4 linked regions of the Homo sapiens genome follow. The protein of the gene in region 3 interacts with the protein of the main gene of each other region in a pairwise test. Each region holds a gene or a part of one and is shown on either strand. Other genes may lie near its edges. The genes, in order: BRMS1L, RINT1, TXLNA and TTC33.

The links.
Region 1: the proteins of TXLNA (region 3) and BRMS1L interact in binary tests that used the Homo sapiens proteins (3 or more experiments, as listed by UniProt).
Region 2: the proteins of TXLNA (region 3) and RINT1 interact in binary tests that used the Homo sapiens proteins (3 or more experiments, as listed by UniProt).
Region 4: the proteins of TXLNA (region 3) and TTC33 interact in binary tests that used the Homo sapiens proteins (3 or more experiments, as listed by UniProt).

What each region holds. Positions count from the first base shown.
Region 1 is NC_000014.9:35,857,024-35,865,231, reverse strand, and holds part of BRMS1L (breast cancer metastasis-suppressor 1-like protein), read right to left. Parts: intron 2,643-8,208; coding exon 2,546-2,642; intron 1,363-2,545; coding exon 1,279-1,362; intron 298-1,278; coding exon 233-297; intron 1-232. UniProt on the Homo sapiens protein: Involved in the histone deacetylase (HDAC1)-dependent transcriptional repression activity. When overexpressed in lung cancer cell line that lacks p53/TP53 expression, inhibits cell growth.
Region 2 is NC_000007.14:105,527,961-105,536,037, reverse strand, and holds the start of RINT1 (RAD50-interacting protein 1), read right to left. Parts: upstream 3,838-8,077; 5' UTR 3,723-3,837; coding exon 3,681-3,722; intron 3,215-3,680; coding exon 3,169-3,214; intron 1-3,168. UniProt on the Homo sapiens protein: Involved in regulation of membrane traffic between the Golgi and the endoplasmic reticulum (ER); the function is proposed to depend on its association in the NRZ complex which is believed to play a role in SNARE assembly at the ER.
Region 3 is NC_000001.11:32,188,974-32,197,181, reverse strand, and holds part of TXLNA (alpha-taxilin), read right to left. Parts: intron 7,128-8,208; coding exon 6,933-7,127; intron 4,872-6,932; coding exon 4,752-4,871; intron 4,526-4,751; coding exon 4,451-4,525; intron 3,975-4,450; coding exon 3,882-3,974; intron 3,118-3,881; coding exon 3,022-3,117; intron 2,281-3,021; coding exon 1,987-2,280; 3' UTR 1-1,986. UniProt on the Homo sapiens protein: May be involved in intracellular vesicle traffic and potentially in calcium-dependent exocytosis in neuroendocrine cells.
Region 4 is NC_000005.10:40,710,275-40,718,368, forward strand, and holds the end of TTC33 (tetratricopeptide repeat protein 33), read right to left. Parts: intron 6,225-8,094; coding exon 5,871-6,224; 3' UTR 1,302-5,870; downstream 1-1,301.

The sequences.
Region 1 (8,208 bases), on a different chromosome or scaffold from region 3:
TATTAGTTACATTATTATAGAAAAAATACAATCAAACTGCTGACATGTCTCTAACTCTTAAAATATCCTTGTAGTTCACTGCTATCTGTAATAGTATTAAATTGCCTTAGAAAAATGTTGCAAAAGCAAAGCATATTTACAATAATATTTTGATGTACTAACAAAAAAAACATAGAATCTTAAAAAGTAGACTATAAAAACATACTTGTGTTCCACTGCTCATTAATCATACCTTCCTAATTGTTGTCCAGTCTTCAAGAATATCAAGATCTTGTAGCATATAAACTATATATGGACGTTGAATAGTCAAGGTCAATTTAGCTGTAAGAATATCACACTTTGAATTATATTTCCAAAGTACTACATTTCAGAAAATGGAACGATGATTTATGAGCATAATGCTTTGGCATCCTAAATTCTGACTTCAAATTATTCTTCAAACCACTTAGTACCAGCATAAATACAGTCTAGTACTTCTGATGTCATAACTACATGCCCTTAATTCCATGATATCATTGATTGTAATATACATCACTAACACAATCACTGGTTTTTAAGGTGGAGGGGAAAAGATGGGGGTAGAGGGATGGTACCATAGAGAATGCCGAAACTGAATATACGTATTAATTTACACTCCAATTTTGGAAACATTTAAAAATGTTTTTAAAAAGTATACGAGGCTAGGCACAGTGGCTCATGCCTGCAATCCTAGCACTTTGGGAGGCCAATGCAGGCTTAAGCCCAGGAGTTCAAGACCAGCCTGGGCAACACGGCAAAACCCCATCTCTACAAAAAATACAAAAATTAGCCAGGCGAGTGGCACGTGCCTGTAGTCCCAGCTACTTGGGAGGCTAAGGTGGGAGGATCACCTGAGCCCGAGAGGTTGAGGCTAAGGTGAGCCATGATTGTGCCACTGCACTCCAGCCTAGGTGGCACAGTGAGACCCTGTCTCAAAAAGAAAAAAAAAGTACACATGAGAATTAAACAATCATACTGTATACTAAACGACTGTTTCACATCAAAGCCCTTGGTGAACGACAAGTCACATTAATTTTCAAAGTTGAGATCATGATTGAATTTCTTCTCCTCTGCCACCTCTCCTGACCTAAAGTATACACTATATCCTCTGTCTTCAATCGGTTTTATAAATAAATCATCTTTTGCTTATTACAGGATCATGCAAATAAAGTCAGTGTTTACAAATAAAAGTTATAAAGGCATGCACAATGGAAAAACGCACATCAAGGAAAAAAAAACAGAAAATTTGGAAAAGGATATCTGAAACAACAACTGGCTTCTTTTTGTCAGGACTGAAAGGATCCTTCCTCTTTTTTCTTGACTGAAGCTCATCATTCCACAGCTCTGGCAGGTAAATAAAGATTAAGTATTAGTGGGTTTCTGGTGAACAAAGGAGGAAAAAAGACTCTAATTTTATGGTGGCTATTTAGTTACATGTAAAAACGTAAAAAACTTCATTGGCAGCTGGGTATATATAGATTAAGCTGTACATAATTTCATGAGCACTACGTGTTTAAGTTTTGCTCTGCCTTTATTAAAGCAAAAATCAATTTGGCACTTCATGACTAAGAACTGATTACCATATTGTCATGCACTTTGTAAAATGTATATTACATGCATTGTCTCACCTAATCCCCAAAGCTACCACTGAGGTAGGTATTCTTATTACTTTCCTTTTACAGACAAGGAGATTGATTTAGAAAAGTGAAGTAACTGTCCATGGTCACCAGACTAGTAGGTGAGGGAGCACTGGCACTAGAGCTCAGCTTATCTGACTCCACCATGCCTACCCTATAGAGAACTAAACTTTATAACAGATAAAGTAATATATACTCAAGAACTGTAGGATAACCTAGTAGACCTTCCACTCAATGCAAAAAACCTTTCTGTAACACCCTGAAAAAGCCAATTTCACACTGGACTGATCTAATCATTAATAAGTTATTCCTTTTTCTGAAACAAAAATCTACCTCCCTATAACTTCTATCAGTTTGTCCTACCTTGTATGATGTCAAAAAGGTTTTCATTCCTTCTTCCACATAACAGTCTTTCAAGACTTACAAGGAAAAACATATACTATAGCTAATTTCCAATACTATTCTTTTTTTTTTTGGAGACAAGATTGCCCAGTCTGGAGTGCAGTGGCGCCATCATGGCTCACTGCAATTGCAATCTCGAACTCCTGGGATCAAAGGATGCTTCCGCCTCAGTCTCCTGCATAGCTGGGACTGTAGATATAGATGTGCAGCACCACATCCAGCCCTGACACTATTCTGCCAGTAGGTTCCTGTCATACTTCTGTTTCGTCCCTTGTCGTGTGCTCCATTTTTTACATCTTTCTAAAGTGTGAATTCAAATAACAATAACAATATAATCACCATCACTTTAGAGTTCTTCCCCTTTTCTCCTTTGCTGGGACATTTCATTTACATAATATTAATATTAGAAGACTGAGATACGATATGACACTACAGTAAACCAAAGGTCTGGTGCCACTCAAACATCACAATCATATCATTCTCCTTACCTGAGGTAATATCAATGCTGTGCCTATCCTCTTCAAGCCTTCTTATCTTCTCCTCTAGTTCACTCTGGACTGTATCATATAGCAACAGCTTTTCGCTCTGGGGAGAAAAACAGATTATACTTAAGTAGAAAGAAAAAAATTGGTGTATCTTAACTAAGAGTACCAAATAACTTAAAGTACTTTAATATATGATGCTTTGGTTTGCTTTTTCAATTCAATTAAAAATTCTAAAGAAGAAATGTCAAATACATGAAAGAAATAAAACTAGAAAATATAGAATCTATATATAGATTTAACTACATGCAATTACATTCTGTATAAGAGCATCTAAATTATGTCTGATGTACATTTAGAGGTAAATATTTACTTTATAAAAAACTCATAGCAAACCCCTATGGCCCCTTTTAAATTTAAGTAGGTCCCATCTGTCACCATCATGGAAAACTTATCCTATAAAGTATATCATTATAAAATGGATCATATTTTCTCACAGGAATAATAATTGGGTCATTATGCCTCACTAATATCTCAGCATCATATTAAAATAGGCAAAGAGAAAGATTCAAGTACAAATTTTATGATTATTTAAAATAATTCAATTATAGTCTAAATTATAAAATTACAGACTAATCATATCCAAATCTTTCTACAAAACCATAGACAGATTGAATTGCTACAACATACAAGACTGGCAAATAGACTAGAACCCAGGTCTACTAGCTCTAGTCCATGTTTTTAATTATATAATACTGTAGCCCTAATTTAAAAAGCCATAAAATGTACATAATATATAAAGATCAATTACACAAAAAAACCTATGGCCACATGTTTACCTCTAGTGAAGGATATTAGATAATTGGATATAGCAGATATGACTGTCTTGCGGAAGCTATTGGGATATAGTTGGATATGACTACATGTAGAAAACACAGGCCACACCCATGTAGGCTGCATTCCTGGTGTCAATCATGAAGCCCTCTCTCTTGAGTCTGAAATTTAGAAATTATACATGCTTGAAGGGTTTCCTGAGTGTCAGGGAAAAGATGGCTTACAAACTTGAGGCAAGCCAGGTGCTAAGGAGAAAGCAAAGCTGAAAACTAAAACTAGATTTCATATCAAACATGGTTTCATTGCATGCTGTTCTCTCTGCTTACTTCCTTTTGCTTGTTCCCTTGCCTTTAGTAAAGTCTTATGAAATATTCCAGCTTTATCTATATTGTGCTGCAAAACTCGGAAAATATCAGAGAAAAAGGGAGAGCAGTTCCCCTCCACAAGACCGTGGTAGCAGCTATAAATAGATCCAATCTCCCCAACCAAAGATGACTCTAAATACAGAGCTGGAGTGATAAGCCTTTTGCTGTTAAGGATATGAACATTTAATTGGTGTATTCTCTTTTCTTCCTATTGACAAATTAGGCCAAGCAGAAATTCTTTTAAAAATCCACTAATCATTCTTTATTATTTTTTAAAAAGCCACAATGAAACTGAAATGTTTGAAGCATTGAAGGCATCTCTAAAAATATCAGAAGTATACTTTAAACTGCCATGAATCCATTCTCATTCTTATTTCTCTTTCTTTTTCTTGGAAAGTTCTCTCCCTTTTCTCCAGCTTCTCAAGACACTCAAAAACCTCCCCTGAATGGAAAATGAAGCCCTAATGGAACAGCTAGAAGATACCTGGAAAAGAAGGGGGCTAACTCTCTTGCTTTGGTGGCTGTGGAGTTTTCTATGTTCAATAGTTACTTTGGTTTTTAAAAAAATACTACTCATAAGTATAGGTTTGGTCTCAAGATCCCACATCCCTCTAGTCTTCACATCTAGACTTACTGATCCTGCTCACTAATAACCCCTTTCCCAGGCTGACGCCTATGCTGTTTCTCATCAGGAGAGCTTTAAAAAGCCCCAGGAAAGTGGCCCCAAGCTTCCATTATTGTACCGACCTCACACTGACCTGTATTCAGAACCAACTCCTCTTTGGCAGTTCCCTGACTTAACATACCTCACAATTCTCAACTTCTATCAGGACTGGAGCCCTGGAAGATTTTCATAGGCTATTATCAGAGAGTGACCCATTAAAACGCTACAATAGTTTTTTTTTTTTTTTTTTAAGCATACTGCACTGGAATAAAAAAAATGCAGAGTAGAATTTTAAAACTTAGAAACAGACTCTGGCTATGCGGAAATGACAAAGGTGACTTTTTAAATCATCTGGGAATCTGACAATAAATGACAAGAGAAAAATGAGTTTAGGCCAGCCACGGTGGCTCATGCCTGTAATCCTAGCACTTTGGGAGGCTGAGGCAGGTGGATCACTTGAGGTCAGGAGTTCAAAACCAGCCTGGCCAACATGGTGAAACCTCGTTGTCTACTCTACCAGAAATACAAAAAAATTATCCAGACATGGTGGTAGACACCTGTAATCCCAGCTACTCAGGAGGCTGAGGCACTAGAATCGCTTGAGCCCAGAAGGTGGAGGTTGCAGTAAGCCGAGATCATGCCACTACACTACAGCCTGGGTGACAGAGCAAGACTCTGTCTCAAAAAAAAAGAAAAATGATTTTAACTATATCCTGAATATTTTTTGCTTTACATTATACAATTTACATTACACATAAAAGTAAATGGACTAAAGGATTAAATTTATAAAATGAAAGCTAAAAGAAAATATTAAAGAAACAATATATAAGAAATTTCCCAGAACTGAAGATACGAATTTTTTTATTAAACAGTTCATCTGGTCAGGCACAATGGCACACACCTATATTCCAGCACTTTGGGATACGGAGGCAGGAGGATCACTTGAGCCCAGGAGTTTGAGACCAGCTTAGGCAACACAGTGAGACCCCATCTCTACAAAATATTTTTTAAAATTAGCTAAGCATGGCAGCGTGGGCCTGTAGTCCCAGCTACTCAGGCAACTGAGGCAGGAGGATTACTTGAGCCCAGGAGTTGGAGGCTGCAATGAGCTATGATTGCACCACTGTACTCAAGCCTGGGCAATAGAGCGAGACTCTGTCTCTTTAAAAAAAAATTCAAATAAATAAATACATAAAATCAAAAGTTCCTCTGGGTATCCAGCACAATGAACGAAAAAAGACCACATCAAAGCACATCATCTCACAATCCCACAATACCAAGACAAGAATAAAGAGAAGATCCTAAAAGTATTCAGGAAGAAAACAGGTCATGTACAAAGGATCAGGAATCAAAATGGTAAGAGACTTTACAAAAGCAACGCTGGAAGCTAGAAGATAATGGAACAATGCCTTCAAAATTCTGAGGAAACATGATTTCTATCTAGAATTCCATACTCTTAAGTGTGAGCGTCAAGATGTTTTCAGACAGGAAAGATGTGGTGGTTTTAAAACATGTCCAATAATCCTTTGATACTCCTAATTTCAAATGGTAGAGACTAATACTCTTTCTTGAATACGGGTAGGATGGGCCAGGCACGGTGGCTCACGCCTATACTCCCAGCACTTTGGGAGGCTGAGGCTGGCGGATCACTTGAGGTCACAAGTTCAAGACCAGCCTGGCCAACATGGTGAAACCCAGTCTCTACTACAAAAAAGGAAAAAATAAGCCGGGCGTGGTGCAGGAACCTGTAATCCCAGCTACTCGGCAGGCTGAGGCAGGAGAATCACTTGAACCCAAGAGGTGGAGGTTGCAGTGATCCGAGATTGCACCACTGCACTCCAGCCTGGGTGACTAAGCAAGGCTCCATCTCAAAAAAAAAAAAAAAATGGGTAAGATATAGCAACTGACTTCTAGTGAACAAAATCTGGCAGAAATCTAGGCCATAAAAACAGTCACCTCTGTCTTGCTATCTTGGATCACTAAGTCTGGAAGAACCTGGGTACCAGGTTATGAGGACACTCAATCAGCCTGTGGAGAGGCCCATGTTCTCACATGGGTTCTCTAAGGCTTCTCACCAAGAACCAGCAACAACTTGCCAGCCTGCGAGTGAGTCACCTTAGAAGCGGATCCTCCAGCCTCCAATCAAGCCTTGAGATGACTGCATCCCTGGCTGATATCTTCACTGCAACTTCTTGGGATTCCCTGAGCCAGAACCATCCAGCTAAGTTGCTCCCAAATTCCTGGCCACTGAGACTGCAAAATAATAAATGTTTATTGTTGTGTTAAGCCACTAAGTTTTGGAGTAATTAATTATAAAGCAATAGACAAGCAATACAAGAAATCTCAAAAAACTAACTTCTAGAAATCCTTTGTCAGGATGCTACTGAAAGATACACTCTACCAAACTTAAGGAGAAAATAAGATGCTAGCAGAGGAGAGGTGAAGGGGACATCCAGGTTGCTGGTAAAGAGATGCCCCAAGAAGACAGATGCAGCTGGCCTCCAAATGAAAGATGGAGCAGGAGGATAGGGGACACGAGGGATAGAGGGGTTGCTTCCAGGAGGGAGCCCTTCAGAAGAAAATGAGGCTGATGGATTATCTGATAAGTTTGATCGCAGAGAAAACAGCGTTAGGACTTCAGTGTCTGAAAGAAGCAAATATGAGGGGGTTTTCTAGGTCATTCTAGAAGTCATCAGAAGACACTGTTTACACCTAACTTTAAAACGAGAAGCAGTTTTGACCTTTACTGGACAGGAGTTTAAATCTTCATACAGTTGAAAACTTATGAGAGGTCCAGTGCTTTTTTTTTTTTTTTTACTTTTCTTGAGTCCATTAGGTAACATGCTCTTTATTTTGTGGAATACTCAGGCTTCATGAAAAATCAATACAACTGTACATGTTTAGCTTAATTAAAAAAAAAAACAGCATTAGGAGGCCCTCATAGATCTGCTAAGGTCTGTAGGAAGAATTGATAAACACAGAGAAAACTAACAAACAATAAATGAAGCAATTATTAATTCCAAAGTTTAAAAAAATACACAAGAAAAATTTTAAACATAATGTAACTCTTGACTCAGTAAACAATATTTATAATTTAAAACAAAAACTGTAACACAACAGTATTAGAAGAATGAAACAGAAAAATCCTCAGCTTCCATAATAGGAAACCAATAGATAATGTCTAAAACTGCTTTATTTAGAAATATGAGGGCCAGGCGCAGTGGCTCACACTTATAATTCCAGCACTTTGGGAGGCCAAAACAGGAGGATCACTTGAGGCCAGGGGTTCAAAACCAGCTGGGCAATATAGCAAGACCCCCATCTCTATAAAAAAATTTTTTTTTAAGAAAGGAATATGAGGGTAAATTCCAGAAGCAACTGATACACAAGTTAGAAATATAATTGCCACTGGGATACAGAATTTAAAAATAGGACAGAAGACTGCTGTTTTTCATTATAAATTATAAGGCTATGCCTTCAAAAATATATACACACATTACCTACTAACAACAAACATATATATATATACACACACACACACACACACATATATATGTATATATACATATATATATATATTTTTTTTTTTGAGACGGAGTCTTGCTCTGTCGCCCAGGCTGGAGTGCAGTGGCATGATCTCATCTCACTGCAACCTCCGTCTCCCAGGTTCAAGCAATTCTCCTGCCTCAGCCTCCCAAGTAGCTGGGATTACAGGCAAGTGTGACCACGCCCAGCTAATTTTTCTATTTTTGGTACAGACGGGGTTTCATCATATTGGCCAGGCTGGTCACAAACTCCTGACCTCA
Region 2 (8,077 bases), on a different chromosome or scaffold from region 3:
CTAAAGCACTCTATCAAACAACTACTGCAAAATGCTTAAGAGCTGAGGGAAGTATTAAAGGAAAAATTCCTAAAGTGTGATCCAGTAACCACAGGTTTCAATAGACAAGGAATAATACCTTTTCAAAATGTGTAAGGAACCAGTAGTATGGTCTAGGGCAACACCAAAAGAAGACTCTTGTTTTAAAGTGTTTTTAAAAAGACCGGGCGCAGGGGCTCACACCTGTAATCCCAGCACTGTGGGAGGCCAAGGCAGGAGGATCACTTGAGCCCAGAAGTTCTAGACCAGCCTAGGCAACAAAGCAAGACTTCATCTAACAAAATTAGCCAGGAATGGTGGAACACACCTGTAGTCTCAGGTGGGCTGAGGTGGGAGGATTGCTTGAGCAGCCTGGGAGATGGAGGCTGCAGTGAGCCATGATCTCACTACTACATTCCAGCCTGGACAGCAGAGCAAGACCTCATCTCTTAAAAACAAACAAACAAACAAACAAAAAAGTAAAAAAGGTTTGGCTGGGCGAGGTGGCTCAGGCCTGTAATCTCAGCACTTTGGGAGGTTGAGGCAGGCAGATCACAAGGTCAGGAGTTCGAGACCAGCCTGGCCAATATGGTGAAAACCTGTCTCTACTAAAAATACAAAAATTAGCTGGGCATGGCGGTGCACGCTTATAGTCCCAGCTACTCGGGAGGCTGAGGCAGAAGAATCGCTTGAACCCGGGAGGCGGAGGTTGCAGTGAGCCGAGATCACGCCACTGCACTCCAGCCTGGGCAACAGAGTGAGACTCTGCCTCAAAAAAAAAAAAAAAAAAGGTTTTTAAGCTTCAAATGTCATCGATGTCATTGTACAAAGATATCTTTGTCAGAAACAGAAAAAAGAAAATATGAGAGAACAAATTACTAGGAAAAAATCAAAATGACAAATGCAACCACTAAATAGTATAAAGTGAGATTCTTTCCATGGCAAATAAACTACCTGTTTTGTGACATTTAATAAGTCCAATACACATTAGGCTTATTAATATTAATATCTAAATAATGATATGCCTAAGTGCAAAATGTAAATGTCAGATATTGGTCAACTATTTATGTAAAGATTAACAGAATATATACCAATGTTTTATACAGAGTATGTTCCTGTCTCCACCCCTACACCCCAACAAACAAAATTTCCTTTGTTCTACTTAACTTATATGAATTAAATTAAAAGATTTTTCACATGCTGTGAGAATCAGGAGGTGGTACTGACCTTTTCCCCCTTTCCTGTTCAGTGCAAGATCCAGAACCCAAGCTATACATTGTGCCTTCCCAGAGCAATTTTAAATTGACAATTTAGAGGGTAGGAGAGGCAATATTAACATAACACTATGCCTCAATTTTCCAACTAGAAAACAAATTGTAACATTTGCCCCAGCCTATATCTCAAGGTTATAAATGGGACTATATAATACAAATTATATATTAATTATACTATATAATTATATATAATATTAACGTATAATAATCTACTATTATGTACAGAACTCACAATGCCTTTTTTAAATCTTAAATAAAACAAGTGATTTGTGTGGTGTATCTGCAGATAAATGGAGGCAGGAAATGTTTTGTGAATGCTAAAGTTGCTGTATCTTAGGGAGGAAATTCTACCTTCATTTTTTAAAAAAAATTACACCCACTGAGCACAGTGGCTCATGCCTATAATCCCAGCACTTTGGAAGGCCGAGGACGGTGGATTGCCTGAGGTCAGGAGTTCAAGACCAGCCTAACCAAAATGGTGAAACCCTGCCTCTACTAAAAATACAAAAATTAGCCGGGTGTTTGGCGGGCACCAGTAATCCCAGCTACTGAGGAGGCCGAGGCAGGGGAATTACTTGAACTCAGAGGCGGAGCTTGCAGTAAGGCGAGATCGCGCCACTGCACTCCAGCCTGAGAGACAGAGTGAGACTAAGTCTCAAAAAAAAAAAAAATTACACCCTTGATGTGTAACCATTCAAATGTGGCATAGTACATTCTTAGTGAAATGACATTCTTCAAAATGACACACCGGTGGTTTGGGAGGTTTTTATGTGTCTCCTTTTCTATTTTTTGTAAAGAGCACTCCTAACTGCAAAGCAGTTTGAGCTGTGGAAAGAGGAACAAGGTCAAAGTCCTTGATATGATAGTCTACATCTATTATTTTATTAAAATGACAGCTCAGTAGGCATCAGACTACTTTCCAGGCATCTGAATGAGGCAAAGGTGGAAAATGGAAAGGGAAGGGTTTAACTGAGAGATACAAGGCACTCTGAAATCCTTCAAGAAAAAGGAGCTGAGATGTGGCAGTTATGACAGTCATGTGCTATGGACTGCTCAGAGCCTTCTTTCTGAGGCAGATTCTATCAGCCGCTAATGTTAAGGGCAAATCTTACTCCTAAGGGCCATGTGCTAATGTGGGCACCGTTTTTCTTACTGCTACACATTCCCAACTGTTTGCCACAGTCAAAAGAACCAAAAATCCCAATAGCAGAGCTATCACATGCTTTTCCCCTTCCTCTCCCAAAAAATGTCACTTCAAAGGTCCCTAAAGAGCCCTTGATTTGCAATAACCTGCCATCAAAGTAAAATGGCAAAAGTCCACAACCCTGACATATACTCCCGTACTAGGGAGGAAATGGTGGTACTGACCTTTTCCCCCTTTCCTGTCCAGTCCAAGATCCAGAACCCAAGTTATCCGTTGTGCTCTTGCCAGAGCAATTTTAAATTGCCAATTTACTGAAGGTGAACTAAACAACTGTCATTTGCCTCCTTTGAACCCAATTAGGGTGGTGGTCGTCTGTCCTAGATCATGGGCCCCTCCAAATTCCTGATGCTTAGTAAGTTGATGTTTCATTAAAATGACAGGCAGGCCCCAATTATTCTGAGTACTGTATGATAGGCAGACTTCCAGCGAAAACACTCTAGTCCCTGTACTAGGTATGGATCGGGAAGTGCTCTTCTCCAAAGCATCCCATATTTTACAATTTTAGAAAGACAAAAATATGTGTATCATGGTCATCAGTATTACCATATAAGCATATTGTGCAGAAAACGGTACTGCATCTAAAAGATAGGCAAAGAACCTTTCTATATTGCAGACCCTGGAAGGCTGAGTTTGGGCGGGAAGAAAAAGCTAAGGTGTTTGGAGCTGGCTTACTTTTCTCCTCGAGGTTCTTCCTTTCGTCACCACTTTCAGAGCAGCACTAGAAGAAGAACAGATGTGACAAGCACATTAAGATTAAAGTCGTGGATGGAAAGCATACGGGGCTCCCAAAGGGCACCCACTGGAGGCAAGAGAGGTTCCAGACGCTCTCCCACTTTCTGAGCGACCAGGGCCGTCCGAATCAGGTACCTCAAAGTGCCACTGTCCTGGTGCCACCGCCACCTTCCCAGGAGGTGTGTGTCACCTCCGCAGGACCTGGAGTTACCTTGCCTGCTCACTAGAGCCACCTCCCTAGAGAAATCTGTCATCTCACCAGGGCCGCCAAAGCCACTTCACGGGGACTACCGCCTCCTCTAGGAGGTCTTACAAGGGCCTCTAATCTAAGCCGCAGGAAGCACCTTCACAAGCTTACAGGGCCACCGCACCGGGACTATCTCCCCCGGGAGGTCTGTGCCACCTCAATGGGCCACCAATGTCCCCTCCCAGGGACGCCAGGGCCGTCTCACCGGGGCTGCAGGAGAGGCGCCGATCTCGCCGGCTGGTAGCATCTCGCCTCCGCGCGAGTCCTCGGCTCCATTCGCAGCCAGCGTGGCCTGTGGAGTCTGGCTAAGGCCAGCGACACACTCACTACCCAGCCTCGGAGGCCGTAGGACTGAGTGCCACAGCGACTTCCTCTCGATGTCTCACTGGTTTCTTCCTCTCAGCCCAGAGAGGCCCTGCCCGTGCAGCCGCCGGCCGTGCTCTGTTCCTCCCCCTCCTGACCGGAGGTCGGAACGGCCACTCAGGAAGCGGGCACCCTCCCCTATGGAGCTCCAGAGAAGGGATTCGCTCACTCCACCGCGGTAAAAGTCCCCTCCACTTTATTGAAGCTCTTAATGATGGAACTTTAAGATATCCCTCTCCCAACGCCTTAAATTCAATATGAATAATTTAAATTTATATTTTAGGCAATATCCAGATGTTCTGAGAGTGTGGGGGGCTTGTTGACTAGGAGCTTCGGTGCAGGGTTATTTGGTTCGAATATTTAGTTGGGGGTTTCCAATGAATGTCAGTATCTTTAGATATTTCTTTTAACGTTGGTCAGAGTCCCTAGAGATGAGCTTCTGATTTCCTGCCTAGAGGGTGTAGAGGTGGTTATAAGCGTTCTGGGAGCTGAATGAAGAGAACAGAGCATCTAACATGTGTTTCGCCCAAAACCCTGTCTTTTACCAGGGAGGAGGAAAGGGAGCTACCTAGCAGCAAGGGTTGTGTAGAGGACCTGTGGACTTGACAGCCTCTTAAACAAACTAACACGGAAGGAGTACCATAGAGACCATAACAAACAAGGGGGGGGGAAAGCAACCCTCAGAGGAAAAAGAAACCACACGGTGAGAAGAAAAATCAAATACATGTGCACAGAGATATATAATCGAGCTACAAATTACTATTGCAAGCATAAAACAAGGATGGCTGGGCGCTGTGGCTCACGCCTGTAATCCCAGCACTTTGGGAGGCCGAGGCAGGCAGATTACGAGGTCAGGAGATCGAGACCATCCTGGCTAACATGGTGAAACCCCGTCTCTACTAAAAATACAAAAAATTAGCCAGGCGTGGTGGTGGGCGCCTGTAGTCCCAGCTACTCAGGAGGCTGAGGCAGGAGAATGGCGTGAACCCGGGAGGTGGAGCGTGCAGTGAGCAGAGACCGCACCACTGCACTCTAGCCTGGACGACAGAGCAAGACTCCGTCTCATTTAAAAAAAAAAAAAAAAACAAGGATACTATTTTTTAAATTACCTATTATGGGAACATAATCGTATATATTTATAGTGTACATGTGTGTTTGTTTTTTTTTTGCTCAGGCTGGGGTGCAATGGCGTTATCTCTGCTCGCAGCAACCTCCGCCTCCCAGGTTCAAGCGATTCGCCTGCCTCAGCCTCCCAAGTAGCTGGGATTACAGGCATGCACCACCACGCCCGTCTAATTTTGTATTTTTAGTAGAGACGATGTTTCTCCATGTTAGTCAGGCTGGTCTCGAACTCCCGGCCTCGGGTGAACTGCCCGCCTTGGCGTACCAAAGTGCTGGGATTACAGGTGTGAGCCACTGCGCCCGGCCTTTTTTTCTGGGGCGGGGCGGGGGACGGGTAAAGAAATTTTAATGAGGATTCAAGGTTTGTAGGGAAGACACAGAGGACCGGCGCTCAGCCCCAGCCTCCTCACGTGTACATGGCTCCATGGAGGTTCTCCAGTCGGTTCTGCTGCTGCTGCTGTTTTCGAGCCTTATCTCGTCTGTGTTCCTCATAAGTGTAGTCATCAGTGGGCAGCTCATGGCGGCACAAGGGACAGGAATTTGTCTTGCTTAGCCAGGGCAGAATGCAACTGGAATGAAAAAGGTGTTGGGAAGCATCTCAATGGCAGTCTCCTCCTCAGATTCCAAAAGATACACGGGGCACTTGAGCTCAGCCTTGAGAGCCTCTGATGACTGTCCTGGAGAGGTTCTCAACCACAATCTTGGCAGCCGGTGGAGGCAGGTGGTGGTCCCAATCTACTACCAACCCCAAGTCTTCAAAGTCCATCCTATTCAAAAGTGACCTTACGAGCTCCAGCACCATGTTGGTTCGAGTCTCCTGCTTGAGGGTCCAACGGCTCACAGTCGTGTTCATCGATATAGGACGCCATGGCTGCCCAGCCGTCTGACATGTGATGTTTTGATACAGGTATACAATGTGTAACTATCAAATCCGAGTAACTGGGGTATTGATCATCTTGAGAATTTATCATTTCTTTGTGTTAGGAACAGTCCAATTCCACTCTTTTAGTTATTTTAAAATATGCAATAAATTATTAACTGTAGTCACTCTGTTTTATTGTTGTTGTTGTCGTCATTTGTTTTGGTTTTGGTTTTTTTGTTTGTTTTTTGAGACAAGTTCTCCCTCTGTTGCCCAGGCAGGAGTGCAGTGGTGCAGCCATAACCCACTGTAACCTCAAACTCCTGGGCTCAAGGGATCCACCCACCTCAGCCTCCTGAGTAGCTAGGACTATAGACTGGCACCACCATTCCTGGCTAACTTTTTTTTGTTGAGACAGTGACTCGCTATGTTGCCCAGGCTGGGCTCTACTCCTGAGCTCAAGCGATTCTCCTGTCTTGACCTCCCAAAGTGCTAGGATTACAGCCATGAGCCACTGCACCTGGCCCCTAACTGTATTTTTGGACCCATTAACCATCCCCAATTTATGCCTTCCTCCCTGCTACCCTTTCAGCCTTTGGTAACAATCATTCTACTCTCTATCTCCTTGAATTCAATTTGTTTAATGTTAAGCTCCCACATATGAGAGAAAAGGATACTATTTAAAAGGAGCATTGGCTGGGCACGGTGGCTCCTGCCTGTAATCTCAGCACTTTGGGAGGCTGAGGCAGAACAAATTGCCTGAGGTCAGGAGTTCAAGACCAGCCTGGCCAACATGGTGAAAGCCTGTCTCTACTAAAAGTACAAAAATTAGCCAGGCCTGGTGGTGGGAGCCTGTAATCCCAGCTACCCAGGAGGCTGAGGCAGGAGAATCTCTTGAACCCAGCAGGCAGAGGTTGCAGCGAGCCGAGATTACACCACTGCACTCCAGCTGGGCAACAAAGCAAAACTCTGTCTCAAACATAAATAATTAAATAGATAAATAAATGAATAATAAAAGGAGCACTCACTTGTAAATGGGGAGGGTAAAAATAAATAAAATAAGAAAAGCATTCAGAGATGAAAAAATATGACAGCAGAAATTAAAATTTCAAGAGTGGAAAGATAGGCCAAGTGCAGTGGCTCACGCCTGTAATCCCAACACTTTGGGAGGCCAAGGCACGTGGATCGCTTGAGGCCAGGAGTTCGAGACCAGCCTGGCCAACATGGTGAAACCTGGTCTCTACTAAAAATACAAAATATTAGCTGGCCATTGTGGCACGTGCACCTATAGTCCCTGCTGCTTAGTAGGCTGAGGAACAAGAATTGCTTGAACCCAGGAGGCTTTTAATTTCTGCTGTCATATTTTTTGTTCTCTGAATGCTCTTTTTATTTTATTTATTTATTTTTATCCTCCCCATTTTCACAAGTGAGTGCCCCTTTTATTATTTATTATTTGTTTGTTTGTTTCTTTGAGACAGAGTTTCGTTCTGTTGCCCAGGCTGGAGTGCAGTGGCACGATCTTGGCTCACTGCAACCTCCGCCTCTGGGGTTCAAGTGATTCTTCTGCCTCAGCCTCCCTAGTAGCCAGGATTACAGGTGCCCGCCATCATGCCCGCCTAATTTTTGTATTTTTAGTAGAGATGGGGTTTCATCACATTGGCCAGGCTGGTCTTGAACTCCTGACCTCAGGTGATCTGCCCACCTCAGCCTCCCAAAGTGCTGGGATTATAGGCATGAGCCACTGTGCCTGGCCTTTTCTTTGTTTTGTTTTGTTTTTTGCTTTTTTTTCCTAGAACATTTATCAACATTTATCTTCCCACACTTTGTTTGTTTGTTTTTATTTTGAGACGGGGTCTCACTCTGTCACCCAGGCCGGAGTTTATTGGCAAGATCTTAGCTCACTGCAACCTCTGCCTCCCAGGTTCAAGTGATTCTCCTGTCTCAGCCTCCCAAGTAGCTGGGACTACAGGTGTGCACCACCACACCTGGCTAATTTTTGTATTTTTAGTAGAGATGGGGTTTCACCATGTTGGCCAGTCTAGTCTCAAACTCCTGACCTCAAGTGATCTGCCCGCCTCAGCCTCCCAAATTGCTGGATTACAGTTGTGAGCCACCACGCCTGGCCAAAAACTGGAATTCTGTACTTAATTAGTGAACTATGAATCAAATGTGAGGTTAGAATAAAAATGTGGGGTTTTTTTTAACACTCTTGTAGTCAAGAATAAAAATAGACATTAAAGATCTCAAAAAATTTAGCT
Region 3 (8,208 bases):
ACACTCTGTGAGGTTGGCAGCTCTTGTACCAGCTTAGCCTGGCACAGGGGCTGGGGTAGGGAAAAGGCCCTACTGGAGCAGGAAGAGGCAAGGACTACTCCAGACAGAGGGATTCAAAGGGGAAGAAAAAGGTCATGGGAAACACTTCACAGGACAGCAGTATCTCAGCCAGAGATGGCAGAGATCTCAACACTCACACAGCTGCTTGAGGGCACCTAGATGTGAAGGATACACCAGAGAATAGCAGGCAACTCTGATGCAGATCAGTGGTACCTGCCCTGGGGCAGGAGAAGGAGAAATGGTGTGCCATTCATTTGCCATCTCTGGTCTCAGTCACACATGATTCAGTACTTAACATTCTTTGTGAACCAACTTATCTGAGAGATTTAAGGTAAGGGCTAAAAGAGTGGGCTAGGTATGGAAGATGAAGGGACCTGCAGGACAATGAACTAGCTTCAAAGAAAAACAGCAAGAAGCAAAGCCCTAACCATCCTATCCATCTTGGTCTGAGTCATTCTGTTGTCCCAGAAAACTGCTTGGCACAAACACTGGCTAATACCCTGGCAAGTTTGCAACAGCAGAACATTCAGCATATAGAATGGCTCTACACAGTACATAGTAGTTATGTACTGGAGTGGGGGTAGAACAGGACACAGAAACAACTGTCTGCAGCCATTTTATGGATTTCTGGGGCCCAGTCAATAGTTCAATTTCATTTCTTACCTGTTAGACAACAGCTATGGGCTCCCACACAGGAAGAAGTAGAATCCCCAAGGACAGGCAGGGAGGTGCCAGGAAATAGAATCAGGACAAATCTTGAGGATTGCACATGTGGGGGTGGGGGCAGGAAGCAGAAAAACCCATGAAGCCAAAGAGGCAGCTGGACATGGGACCCAGCAACTGCTGCATGGAGACAGTGCTGATGGGAACTGGTGGTGGCCTCTCAGGACTGAAACCCACAGGTAAGCTTGTGGCAAAGCCATCAGAAGCCCTTTCCTTTCTTTTACCACAAACAACCTGATCTCACCAAACAGGAAACCTCAGCATCAAGATGGCAAAGGAGCCAAGTGGGGTGGTGAAGGAGGTGGGACACTGGAGGCCAGGCACCCAGGCACCACTGCTACAGCATCCCTCTTCCTTGGAAGGTCCTCAATACAAACACTGTCATGTGCAAAAAAAAAAGAAAAAGAAAAAAAAAAAAAAAGAAAAAGAAATAAAGAAAAAAACACCTTCAGAAATAATCCTTTGGGTGATCTCTTGTCAATCATTTGTGCAGGCTAGAGAGGCACCTGTGAATGATAAGGCTACTGAGAAGCATCATTGGCCTGGTCCTGGCACTACCAAAGGGCAGGGGAAGCGATGCCCAAGGGGCTCCTGACCAGCACATCATCCCACGCAAAAACATTCTCCAGGTCCCTTGTTCCAGGCAGGAAATCCCCAGCTCTGAGCGCCCTGCCAGGGCTCTGCCTAGGGACACCTTTTCCAGGTCTAGAGAATCAAAGGAGCCTCCAGAGCAGCTAGGAGGGCCTGAGCTGACCAAGCAAGCCCTGCTCACAAGACAAATGCAGTCAAGACCTGGGTGTATTACTTGTCTTGAGCTCTGAAGGGCAGGGAGGGGTCTGAGCCTCAAATCAGACAGAGAAATGCTCAAGTCACTTCTGCCAACTCACTGTGATGGCAGCTACAGATGACAGCCCCTCTCAAGACTCTTCAGCTCACAGACAAGCCACTGACTTCATCTGTACACACCCCCATCCCCAATGCAAGCCCACTGTACACTTACAGGTATAAATGCATTTGCAAGGCCTTGCAAAATGCCCTATGTACGTAAAACTGACCCACAAAATCCAAAATTGCAAGTGCCAGATGCCAGCCAGGTCAGAACATCCTGGCTTCAGCAATGGGCTGCTCAGCATGGGAGCCTTTTATGGGCCAGGCCTGGCTGGGCTGCCGCTCCCTTCCCAGCATGACCCAACACCAGGCTCTCTAGGCCCTGGCGGAGGTGGGCTCTTGAGGCCCAGTCTGGCCTGATGCTTCTGTGCTCGGTGCTCCTGGGTAGCAAGGCGCTTCTGTGACCCTGGGGGAGCTGGGTGCTTGAGCCCCAGGCCCCTCTGGCCTCCTCTCAGGGCCACTGTCAGTGAGGGAGCCCTGGCCACCAGCACTCAGGTCCTGTACCCTCTTGTTCAGGTCATTGCGCTCTGTCTGCAGTGCCCGGCACAGCTTCTCCAGCCGTTGGATTTTTACCTGCAGGCCCTCCAGTTCTTTATCCCGGACTGTTTTCTAGGGAAAGAAATGAGACCTTCAGTGCCGTGCCCCATCAACCTCCCACTTACCATCACCACTTGGCGGCAAACACTTTAACAAGGCTGAGAGCAGACCGAGTCCAAAGCTGGCCCCCTCTAGGAAACAGTCCTAGTTGAAGCCATGACTAGGCTGTCAGGTGGGGCAGCATGGTGCAGAAAAGGGGCACGGCTTGGAGATAACGTATTCCTCCATTTATCTACCACGTGACCTTGGCAAAGGACTTGACTTTTGAGCCTGTCTCATCTATAAAACAGGACTACTAATACCATCCTCAGAGCTCAAGAGAAGGTTCAATGAACAACGTACCTAAAAACATTCAGCAGCAAAAAAGACAAAAAAAACCCAAAAACTTTCAGCAAGGTCTGGCTTGCAGTTGCTGCTCCATCGTTAGTTCCTTTCTTCTACATTACAAGCTGTGAAATCACAAACTACCTGGGCTGCTTTACATGTAAACCAGGCACATCACTGGCACCCGTTTTTTTCTGCTCTTTTATTCCTTTCTTCCATTTGCTCCCTTCACTCCCACTGGAGACCTACCACTGGGCTCACCACCTCCCATGGGGAGAGAACAGCATTAACTTTGGACTTGGACATTGTGTGCAAATCTCACCTCTACCTCATGCTAGCTGTGTCACTGATGGGTAGAACATACAGGAAAGGGCCTGATATGCGCTAAGTGCACACCCCCACCCTGGCTGCAGATCACAGACAGCCCACCTCCTCAGCCATCTCAAGCAGGGCCTTGTTGCTGCTCTCCCACCGGGACCGGTACATGGTGGTTTCTTTCTCCAGCTTCTTGATCTTCTTAGTCATCTAGGTTATGTGACAGACAGAAGGAAATGGTCAGAGCTGGCCTCTCCAAGGTCTGTGTCTCCAAGGTGGGGACTGCACCTGTGTCTCCAAGGTGGGGAATGATTGATCCCAAGGCGCAAGGCATTACAGGATGCAGTCAATGCCCTCTGTGCCACCTCACCACCAGGAAGTCAGAGGTGTCCACCACCAATAACAAGGAATGGTAAGGGGCCAGGCATGGTGGCTCACGCCTATAATCCCAGCACTTTGGGAGGCCAAGGCGGGCAGATCACTTGAGGCCAAGAGTTCGAGACCAGCCTGGCCAACATGGTGAAACCCCGTCTCTACTAAAAATACAAAAAAAAAAGAAAGAAAAAATTAGCCAGGCATGGTGGCACGCGCCTGTAATTCCAGCTAGTCAGGAGGCTGAGGCAGGAGAATCACTTGAACCCGGGGGGCAAAGGCTGCAATGAGCTGAGATCATGCCACTGCACTCCAGCCTGGGCAATAGGTGAGTCTCCATCTCAAACAACAACAACAACAACAACAACAACAACAAACCCCCCAAAAAAACCAAACAAACAGAAAAGACTGCCCCATTCCCTGGGACAACCTGGAGTGTATACATACCACTGATACTGCCTCAAGAGGGGAAAGGCTGTGAACCTTCCTAACAGCCCTGCCCTTGAGACACCCCAGATGGGAGCTTCCTGAAGGCAGGCCCAACAATTTTGAATGAAGCAGCTTATGCCCCAGCAGCCATGCCTGGCCTGGACCACAGTTACCTTTTCCATCTCCTGCTTGAATGTGGTGAATACCTCGCTGCTTTTGGAAAGTGTGTTCTGGAACTCCTCAAACTTCTCTGTGTATAGGGCAAGCTGTGGGGAGAAAGCAGCCCACAGATAAGACTGGGTTTCTCTGGGAGGCACTCTGGTCAACACACTCAGACCCGTCCTTGACTCTCTGACCAGTAATTCTATTGAGATACTATTTTTCCTTAAAACAAAGCAAAGCTATATATTTGGAAGGATATAATCCAAAATGCTAAGCCTGGAAAGTAGGAGACTTAGGGTGACTTTTATTTTGCCTTTATGTTGATTTTCAAACTCTTCTGTTCCTACCTCCTCAAAAGCAATACATTTCTGAGCTACAAATGAAGTCCTCTGAGCCCACCTAACTACCTGGTCACCACCACATAGGTACTGTGCAGGTCCGGAGAGAACAAAGGCTCAACCAAGGCGTCATAGCAGCCAGGACACAGCCAGTCCTAGAATGAGGGTCCCATTTCACTACCCCCAGGATGGGGCCCAGTGAGGGAAACTTGAAGGCACAGGGTCAGGTTATATGCTCTCACCTGTTGCTTCAGGTGGGTCTCTTGCTGCTTCATCAGCTCACACATCCTCTGGGACTCTACTGCCTCTTTCAGGAGCTATTTCCAAGACAGAACCCCAGATCCTGTCAGAAGCCCCCAGGGGCTATGTTTGGTTTTTAGCCACAAGCACCAGACCCACTGAGGCTTCCTGCTCTCAGACTGGTACTCAAGGAATCTGTGCCTGGTCTGGCCAGACTTCTCCCATATAACCCGGCTATGAGCTGAGCCAGAGCCCAGCCTGTCTCCTCCCACCCCCACCCCAACCCTGGGGCCTGAGCCTCACAAAATCCTTCTCCCGCTGGTGCCGCTCTTCTGCCTCCTTTAGCATCTCCTGGGCCTGCTGGAGCTTGGCATCCACCAGCTGCTGTTGTAGGTCCTTGTGTTTGAAGACTTTGTCGATATGCTGCAACAAAGATGGTGGGAGCAGTCGGCTTGTCAGGCGCTCCCTTTCTCAGGGTAGCCCCACAGCCACAGACCAGGGCACTTTGCCCAGCCCCCCATCTCAATCTGATATGATGGACTCCCATGTGTACCACACAACATGGGCCCCAAGTCTCTGGAAGGTCAGCTTTCCAACCTCACGTCGTTTCTCTCCCAGTGAGTCAGACCTTGGTAAGCACATGGTTTATGGATGGAATCTGCTCCCAAGAAGGCAAGCAATAAACACACTCAAATCTCTGACCCCAGGATTGATCACCTATGGGGCTGGAAGCCCTCACTTCTGTGTCCCTGATTCTCTTGTAAATGGGAAGAATGGGCAAAAACAATGCCTCTAAGAACATAACAGCCTAGCTCAGTTGGCAAAGACTTGCCATATCTAGGCAAAGACTAGACATGTGCATCCCCAAGGAATGGCTGTCCTGCCTACTAGAGGAGCGCTGCAGACCTGTGTCAGGTGAGAGAGAAGGGATGGAGAGAAGGTGAAGGACTCAGGTGCTACTTCAAAGGTAAAATCAACTGGACTTGCTGAAATAAGGGAAAATAACTCCATTTTTTTGGATGGGGAAGGGAAGGTGCCTAGCAGGTAAGTCCAGTTTGGGTATGATGAGGGTGCCTGTGTCTGTCTGGGGAGGGCTGTAAATGCAAAGCAGCAGGGCCTGGTAGTCCTGCACCTCCTTCTCCACAGGTAGTACTAAGTCCTTTTTTGCCTTGGCGGGGAGAGAAAACGGGGGTATTCAGATTCTTGAAGTTCGTGTCTCACTGTAGTGGCCCAGGAAGCCTCTATGTCTCAGCGCTGAGGGATAAGAACCAAACCAACTCCCCTCAAACCAAACAAGCAGCTTTGTTCCCAGAGGATGAAGTATGGCAAGGAAAGGGGTGGGTCAGGGGAGCGCCCTCTAGGTCCTGCACACACGATCATCACTTTGGCCTATGAACCTAAGAGGGCAGATCTTCCCGGTCTCACCCACTGCCACACCCCAGGGGCTAGGAAAGGGCCTAATCCAGAGCAGGTCCTCTGCCAGCCCTGTAAGGGGGCTGCAGGTCTCCCTTCTCATGATGAGAACGCGCCCAGAACAGCCAGGTGACTGGCAGGGAAGATCCAAAGATTCAAGTGCCTGGGGTGGCAGCCAACGCAGTGACAAAGGGAGTGACATCCTGCTTTTTTTTTTTTTTTTTTTTGAGATGGAGTCTCGGTATATCACCCAGGCTAGAGTGCAGTAGCACAATCTTGGCTCATTGCAACCTCTGCCTCCTGGGTTCAAGCAATTCTCCTGCCTCAGCCTCCTGAGTAGCTGGGACTACAGCCGTGCACCACCACACCTGGCTAATTTTTTGTATTTTTAGTAGAGACAGGGTTTCACCATGTTGGCCAGGCTGGTCTTGAACTCCTGACCTCAGGTGATCCGCCCGCTTTGGCCTCCCAAAGTGTTGGGATTACAGGCATGAGCCACCACGCCCAGCCTGATAAATTCTGCCTTTTGAGTGGCAGGAGCAGCAAGGAATCAGTGGACACAGTCTCTGGAGTCCATCACTGATCACAGGTACACCCCTCCCCTGCAATTCCAAATTCTACAAAGTTCTGAAAATGGAAATTGTCATAAGCTGGCAGCCAGACTTGACCTGCATCATTGTAAGCCCATAATGTAGGTGAGTATTTGGAAGTTCTACTGCATAAATACATTAATGTGTCTGGCTTCCCCAAGGCCCTGCTGAGGGTGCTATATAACACACAGTCCATACATGTACCTCCATTCTAAAATGTGGATAGTTCTAATTCCAAAAGATGCCTGGCCCAGTCATTTGGGACAAGGCACTGTGGACCTGGGGCTGTGTGGCTGTAAGTGAGTCTCTTCTCCACACCTGTTTTTTATCTATGAGGAATAACATTACTCTCCTCCCAAGGAGGAGGAGGAGGAAGAAAGGGAGAATGGGATGAAGCCTGAAAAGGTACTGTCCCAGTGCCTAGCACACACTCAAAACCTCACAATTTCTGGGCCATGACTGCTGTCCGTGATACCCTTACCTCCTCGCGCAGCTCATACTGCTCAATCAGCTTCTTGAGCCTCTCAGCCAGCTCCATGTTCTCTTGGCGCAGCTTGGAGTTGCGCTCATTGTGCTGTTCCATCTGCAGCTGAATGTCATTCAGTGTCACCTGGAAGTGCGAGGTCACCTCCTTGCGCTTCTCCTCCTCCTCCCGGGCCCGCTGCACACCTTCTTCCTGGGCAAAGAAGTCAGCCCGAGAGCCATCATCCACTGCTACCTCACAAGGGTCCCCCAGCTAGTCCACAGATGGTCTCTGCCAACAGCCCTCCCTGCTCCCAAAGCGTGGAGTAGCCAGACTCCAGGATGTTGTGCAATGCGGGTTCCAATGGGCCCCTCTGTATATCAGGTGACATCAAGTGAGATTCTCCCCCTAGAAAAATGCAGGCACATGGCAGGCGCGGTGGCTCACGCCTGTAATCCCAGCACTTTGGGAGGCTGAGGTGGGCGGATCACGAGGTCAGGAGTTTGAGACCAGCCTGGCCAATATGGTGAAACCCCGTTTCTACTAAAATACAAAAATTAGCCGGCGTGATGGTGTGCACCTGTGGTCCCAGCTGCTTGGGAGGCTGAGGCAGAGGAGTCATTTGAACCTGGGAGGCGGAGGTTGTGGTGAGCTATGATCGCGCCACTGCACTCCAGCCTGGGCGATGGGCCACAGAGCAAGACTCCGTCCCCAAAAAAAAAAAAAGGAAGAAAAAATGCAGGCACACATGCACACATGTAAGTGCTAAGTGCCATTCTGAAGCAAGTCGGATCTCCTAAGGCCTATTCTTCCAGATTTCAGATTAATGTGCATTTGTCCCCTCTGTACCCCCAGAGACCAAGCTGTTAAAATTTAGTAACACCCAGGGTTTGCAAAGTTGTGCAGAATTAGGCACTCAACACTTTTGATGGGGAAGGCACACTGCCCCCTCACTGGAAGGCAATCCAGCAAAATCTATTAAAATGAAAAATCTGCATATACTGTGACCTAGCCATTTCAATTCCATGACTTATCCTACAGATAAGTTCTATATAACTGACCAGTGATAAATATAACAAGAATTTTCACTATAGTTCTATATGTAATAATGAAAAATTGTAAACAACCCCCAAAATGCTTTAACTAGGGCACTGATATAATATATCCATATAATGAGAAGATAGCCCTACACATACTGATAGGGAAAAATGTTATGTAAAGTGAAAAAAAGGCACAGGATATGAAATGGTACATGTATAATAATTTCATTCTAAAAACTACATGTAAGATTTTA
Region 4 (8,094 bases), on a different chromosome or scaffold from region 3:
CAGACATTTCTCAAAAGAAGACATTTATGCAGCCAAAGGACACATGAAAAAATGCTCATCATCACTGGCCATCAGAGAAATGCAAATCAAAACCACAGTGAGATACCATCTAACACCAGTTAGAATGGCAATCATTAAAAAGTCAGGAAACAACAGGTGCTGGAGAGGATGTGGAGAAATAGGAACACTTTTACACTGTTGGTGGGACTGTTAACTAGTTCAACCATTGTGGAAGACAGTGTGGCAATTCCTCGGGGATCTAGAACTAGAAATACCATTTGACCCAGCCATCCCATTACTGGGTATATAACCAAAGGAATATAAATCATGCTGCTATAAAGACACATGCACATATATGTTTATTGTGGCACTATTCACAATAGAAAAGACTTGCAACCAACCCAAATATCCAACAATGATAGACTGGATTAAGAAAATGTGGCACATATACACCATGGAATACTATGCAGCCATAAAAAAGGATGAGTTCATGTCCTTTGTAGGGACATGGATGAAGCTGGAAACCATCATTCTCAGCAAACTATCACAATGCCAAAAAACCAAACATCACATGTTCTCACTCATAGGTGGGAATTGAGCAATGAGAACACTTGGACACAGGGCAGGGAACATCACACACTGGGGCCTGTTGTGTGGTGGGGGGAAAGGGGAGAGATAGCATTAGGAGATATACCTAATGTAAATGATGAGTTAATGGGTGCAGCACAGCAACATGGTACATGTATACATATGTAACAAACCTGCACATTGTGCACATGTACCCTAGAACTTAATGTATAATAAAAATATGTATATATATATATAGAAAACAAACAAGCAAGCTGCAGATAGGAAGATAATATACACAATACTTACAGCTCATGAAGGACTTCTATCCAGTAGAAAGGAAAACTCTTACAACTCAATAAGAAGATGACTTAAATCAAAAATGGGCAAAATATTTGAAAAGTTACTTTCCAAAAAAGAGAAATGTCAGATAAGCCTATGAAAAGATGCTCAACATTATTAGGGAAATGCATATTAAAACCACAATGAAATACTACTACATATCCACTAAAGTGTCTAAAATTTAAAAGACTGACAATATCAATCATTGACAAGGATATGGAGAAACTGAAATTAATTTAATACATTGCTAGCAGAAATCCCAAATGGTACAGATAATTTGGAAAAGTTTGGCAGTTTCCTTTAAAGTTGTGCATAAACTGGTCATAAGACTCAGCAATTCCATCCCTAGGTATTTACATAAGAGAAATGAACACATATGTCCACACATAGAATTGTGATTTATATATATAGCAGCTTTATTCATAATAGATCAAAACTTGAAACAACCTAAATGTCCATCAATAGGTGAACAGCTAAACAAATTGTGGTATATCTATATACTAGAATACTATTCAGCAATAAAAAGGAACTTATTATTGATACACATGATAACATGGATGAATCTCAACATGGATGGGTTTCAAAAGCATCATGTTAAGCAAAAAAAAAGTCAGACACAAAAAGAGTGCATATTATATGGCCTATTTATTTCAAACTCTAGAATTCTGAAGTCAAATCTAACGTATAGCCACAGAAAGCAGAAAAGTAGTTGACTAGGGATGGCTGTTCAGGTGGAGGGGAACCAACTGCAAAAGGGCTTTAGAGAACTTTTTGGGTGATGGACACACACTATATCAGGATGGTAGTGGTGGTGAAGTGGGTGTTTACATTTGTCAAAACTCTCCCAACTATAACGTTAAAATACTTGCATTTTATTATTTCTAAGTTATACTCATTTAAGAAAGTTAATAGAGGTGAACAGAGGATATCCTAATTCATTTCACATTCTTCCCTTCCAATTCAATCTAGAGTCAACAATGTGGTCTGTCACAATTCCAACTCAGCAGACCTTTTAAATATCCTGAACAAATGTTTACCTGTTGCCTTGTAATTAACACTACTCAATTTCAATAGAATTTCCATTATTTAAAAAAAACCTCTAAAATTAGGAAAGAATTCCCACATGTGGTTTTTAATATATCTCATGCTTACTTCGAAATATAATCTGCACTAGTCTTTGTTAAAGTTTGAGGGAGTCATAAAATAATGTCCCTCTCCTCTCCTGACCTCTGAACCACTTGAGACACAGACAGATGGAGATTCAATATTTTAAGTTTACTGCTGAAAAAGGCTAGGTTAGAGGATGTACTTTAAGTTTATGCCAACAATAGCCACCAGATATTGAACTTAGAATTAGACAGACCTGCTTACTAAGGCATGGGCAGTTCTGCACAAGCACAAATCTCCCTTTGCAGAGGCAAAGAACTTTCACTGCAAGGTTCACAATGTAGCTGGCAAGAGACCACAACATCGGTTCTCTGCAGTTATGACAAATCCACAAAAGGGAAAAAAGAGGCTAGCATGCCCAGTTCTATATCTTAAACTCCCTCCTTTCCTGGTGAAGTGAGAGAAAGAGATTAGAATTCCTTGGTAAATGGATAGCCTAAGAAGCACTGTGAGAGGAAGCCATCCTTACCCGCCGCTGCCTTCTGACCAAAGTAGTTCATATATAGTGCACATTAGGGCATGATTCATGTTACAGTAGCTTTAGGGCCACACTTCTTCTTCCGAAGTAACCATATTTAATTGCAAGTGACTAAGGTAAATGACTTTAGGGATAACCTCCTTTATTTCATTTTATTTCTGTTTTATAATTTATATATTTCAATATCTTATTATTGGTAAGAAAAACTTAACTTTCTCAGTCCTAAAATTCTTTATTATCAAATACATCAGTTTAATAATAATCTCTAAGGAAGAAAAAAACACATTTAAGATATCCATTGATTTGAAGATAATTATTATGGAACTATGGTTCTTATGTCAACTCACAACTCATTTAGATATTAATACATGTATCATGAAATCATAGCTCAGAATTGCTGGTCCAGAGTCACTTTAGAATGGCTCTGATTCAAGGAAATTAAAAGAAATGATTGTTAATTTTCTTAGTGCTGGGAAAGGCAGTGAAACAAGCTTTTGAATCATTATGTAATTTTCAAACAACTAAAAGGGCTATACTGTTCAGTTATAATCTTAAAAATTCTAGCTGAGACAGAGCTTTTAAAAAATCTTTATAGTTTTACCATACGGCATCAATTCAAAAGATTGTCATACTGAAACCACTGCCATAAAATTTTGTATGTAGGCCCCAGTTGCAGTAGATCTGGCTCCTGTGAGCTATAACTTGCATGGCTTTTCAATGTTTATGTAGTGTCTGTTAATATATTTAAGATAAATACTCTATAACCAAACAGCCTGTTTTCTAGAGAATGATATATGATTCTTGTGTTATCAGGCATGGTCTGGATGTCTAGACACTCTGACTAATGAGTGTCTATGCCATACAATTCTCAAACAAGAATAATGTAAATTATAGTCAATATAACTTGAACAGTAAACAGTGTTATTTCAGAAAGTATATTAAACATCTATATCATTATCATGAACATCAATTCTCTTCAGATTCATAAAGATTTGTTATTAAAATTAACAAGCTTAGTCTATGTTTGTATATCAGTATTCACATCCTTGTAAAATAATGGGTGCATTTTTCTCTTCACGCATAGAAGAGTATGAGCTAAAATAAGCATTTTGAGGGGCCTGCAGAAATGAGCTGCCTTCCTTCTCCATAACTTACTGTTTCTTTTTCTCCTCTGTCTTATGTCTAAACTATTTTATGTCTTATATCTGGGTAAGAAAGAGACTAACTTGGCCTACCATGCCAGTACAGAGGAAACACTAGGTTCTTATAACAGGGCCTAGTGGCCACATGCATTCCATCCTGAGTCTTGCCTCTTTGGGACTTGAGCTATAGACCCTGTCAAGAAAAATCCCACTATCTCTCCTATAATACTGGAATCAGAGACTTCTTACTTTCAGATAAGGAAAGGATTACAAAAAAAGTTCTCCTTTTTTAAAATCAGAGGAAATTGAGGTTAAATATCTCCAAACTAACTCAAGTTCTTCATAGAAATAGCTAGCATTTACTGAAATAGCTGGCATTACTTCATGTGTGAGGCACCATGCAAGGTACTTTAAATATATTAAGTTCATATAAGAAAGACACTAAGTAGATCAATCTAATTTTTCAAAAGCTAACAACATAAAATAATAGGAAAATCTTCAAAATGCAGAAAAAAACTATTTATTCACAAATTACACAAAAAACAAACATCCATTACTCAAAACAATATACCAAATGTTGAGTACTCACTTCTCTAGATACCTATTTACGTTTTGAGAATGTTCTTTATTAAACAAAATAAAATAATTAACATATTTTTTGGAGCACTCTGAAACTAACCTCTCTAACCAGAGCTAATTTTCTGATGATATAACTTAAGGAAAGAATATTCTTTTCAAGGCAAGTGCTAATTTCTCCAACCCTGAAAAGAGATATGCATTCCAATAAAACAAAAGTTTTAAAAACCATCTTCATAAAAAATGTAGATCATTACTTATAAGCTCCAACAGTAGTAAGATCTTTAACATAAAGTGGGCTACTTTCATCTCTAACAAAGATAAAATTAATACACCAATAGTATCTTCCTGAGTGTCAGAAGTAACAGAACCCAACAGTTCTATATTATTGTACTACAATATATAGTATAAAAATAATAGTTCAGATTAGCAATGACAGTATTGGTTTGTGAATATGACTGTGGACTTTCAATAAAATTTTTTTTAATATAGCCTTTTCATACTCATGAGATTGTACTATAAATCACATTCCAATTTCTATGTATTTTGTGCTTAAGTTATTTATTCATTGGCACTCTAATAACAGCCCTACTTTTTTATTTTTAGAAAGATATAATTAGCTATTTAAAATTGTAATTATTTTTCATTTCACTGAGTAGTTTCAAAAAAAGTTATCTAGAAAAGTAATTCCCAGTCATCAAATGGAAAGACACAAGCAAGAAGTAAGTTGTTTCCAGGGTTTTTAAAGCTTTGTAAAATAAAGAAAAGAAAGTATTGGTTTTGACTGGGATAATATAGCAGTACAATTGTCATTAACCTATCTGTAAAAGCCATTCATTTAAAAATGCATATTTTAAAAATGACTCATTTGTGGTAAGGATTACTTACTGTAACAATTAAAAAATAAAACCATCATTCTCATATTTATCAATACTTTACACTTTTACCAAATACTGAAGGAGACAACTATCATTGTTACAACTTCAAAGTCAAAACAGAAACACAAATCAGAATTAAGAGAAACTTCAGAAAATGTTCAGAATGTACACATTTGTGTGCATTTTCAGCCAAACTTTCAAAGATTCCACATATAACCAAATGACAACTTTGAATCAAAATGAATGTCAAAAATATTCAAGCTTTCTGACAGACTTACTCTAATGAAGCAAGAAAAAGACAGCAAATATTAAGCGCAGTATATTTCTCAGAGGGAGGGAAATCACACACTTCCTTTATCATAAAACAAAAGTTGAGACAGCATTTCAGTAACATTGATCAAATTATTCACTATTCAAGAATACATTTTTCAAGTTTTGTCTTTAAAATGTATTCATTTACATATTCAGATTAAACTAAGTTTATTAATCAAAGACCATTTTACTCAGAATTTTAACCTTGAGAAATATAAATCATAACTTATCAAAGCATATTCCAAACACTATACAATAATCCTGCCATTTTAGTTTTTATATGCCTCATCTGAAAAACATATTTTACAACCAGGCGTTCTCCTATCTATCTCCAGAGTAAATGTCTCTATGTCAAAACTTCAAGAGGCAATCAAAAAGACAGATTCAAATAATCCTATGCATACTGCTTCATCGGGCTTTGATAAAAACAGAGCCATCTGGTGGTGTAGCACCATCCTCCTTTTCAGTTACAGTCTCTATGGCCCCAGAAGCAGACACAATAACCATTGTTTTATTTGCTGAAACTGTCTTCTCTTTCTCAGCAATAGCTGCACAAACAGCAACAATCTCATCACTTTCAAAGTCATAGTCTGGAATTGACTTTGGTGAAAAGTGTGTTACTTCAGCTGGTGCTTCACTTTTTTTAATCCTCTGTGCTACCTTCTGCTGCTCCTGGAGCGTTCTTGCCCAAGAGAGGTCTTCTTTCCATATTTCAGGGTTCATTGGATAGATGTGAAGGGCTACTTGAAAACTTCGAATTGCCTAGAAAATAAGGTCAGAGTTTTTTGTTTTGGTTTTAAAAATTAGTATGTTTAATACAATCCTGTGTGTTTACGTACATATATACTGTACACATACACATCCTAATGCATTATCTTAATGTACTAGAACACAAAAGATGGAAGCTACGGTGTTGCCCTAAACACTGGGGAAAAAAATTATAGAAGTGTGAAAGAAAGTGACTGACAATATGCTTATGGACTAAAAGCCATTAAAATGGGAGTACTCATAATAGGGCTAAAGATAAAGCAAATATATTCTCAGCTTCAGTAGACCAGTAAGTATGTACATTTGGGGATTTCCTGGGCTAACCCACAATCACAAAGGTACCAGGAGTGGATATCTTTGAAGTTAACAGTTTAGATCCTAACAATGTTAACATTTATTGACTGTTTACTACATTCTAGGCACTAAAGATTTACATGTATTTGGCTGGGCACGGTGGCTCATACCTGTAATCCCAGCACTTTGGGAGGCTGAGGTGGGCGGATCACCTGAGGTCAGGAGTTCAAGACCAGCCTGGCCAACACAGTGAAACCCTGTCTCTACTAAAAATACAAAAATTAGCCAGGCATGATGGCGGGTGCCTGTAATCCCAGCTACCCAGGAGGGTGAGGCAGGAGAATCGCTTGAACCCGGGAGACAGAGGTTGCAGTGAGTTGAGATCACGCCATTGCACTCCAGCCTGGGCAAAAAGAGCAAAACTCCATCTCAAAAAAAAAAAAAAAAAAGATTTACATGTATTAACTCATCTATCCTCACAATAATCATATGAAGTAGGTATGGTTATTGTTTTCAGTACTATTTTAGAGAAGCACAGAAAGAGTAGAAACCAAAGGTATCAGCTGGGAATTGGCAGAGCTGGGATGCAAATTCAGGCAGTCTGGCTTCAGAGTCCATTCTCTTATTCATTATATTATACTGCTTAGTCACAAGAACTCCACTACAGTCTGGATAAAGGTCAACCTCAGCACTACTGACATATTTGGCTGAGTAATTCTTTATTTTGGAAGGGCTGTCCTCTATAATGTAGAATATTCAGCAACATCCCTGACCTACACTCACTAAATCCAATACAGCTTCCTTTCCTAGTTGTGATAAACAAAAATGTCTCTAGACATGGCAAATGTTCTCTGGGGGTAAAACTGCCCTCCAAGTGAGAATCATTGGTCTAAATCTATTATATGTTGTTTTCTCTGAGTATACTTAGTCTCTGGATAGAAGATTCTCATGCAAACAGATTAGTTTTAAGATTGCACTTAATCGGCCAGGCACCATGGCTCACGCCTGTAATCCCAGCACTCTGGGAGGTCAAGGCAGGCGGATCACCTGAGGTCAGAAGTTCAAGACCAGCCTGGCCATGGTGAAAACCCGTCTCTACTAAAAATACAAAAAATTAGCCAGGTGTGGTGGTGCACGCCTGTAATCCCAGCTACTCGTGAGGCTGAGGCAGGAGAATCGCTTGAACTCGGGAGGCGGAGGTTGCAGTGAGCCAAGATCGCACAATTATGCTCCAGCCTGGGCAACAAGAGCGAAACTCCGTCTCAAAAAAAAAAAAGATTGCACATAATCTACAGATTTACAATCTAATAGGCCCTTTAGAGAAGTCATAAAGAAGACAGATACATGATGGCTCACGCCTGTAAATCCAACTCTTTGGGAGGCCGAGGCGAAAGCATGGATCACTCAAGACCAGGAGTTCAATGACAAAACCCCGTCTCTACTAAAGATACAAAAAAAATTAGTTGGACATAGTGGTGGTGCCTGTAATCCCAGCTACTTAGGAGGCTGAGGCAGGAAAATTGTTTGAACCCCGGAGGCAGAGGTTACAGTGAGCCAAGATGGTGCCACT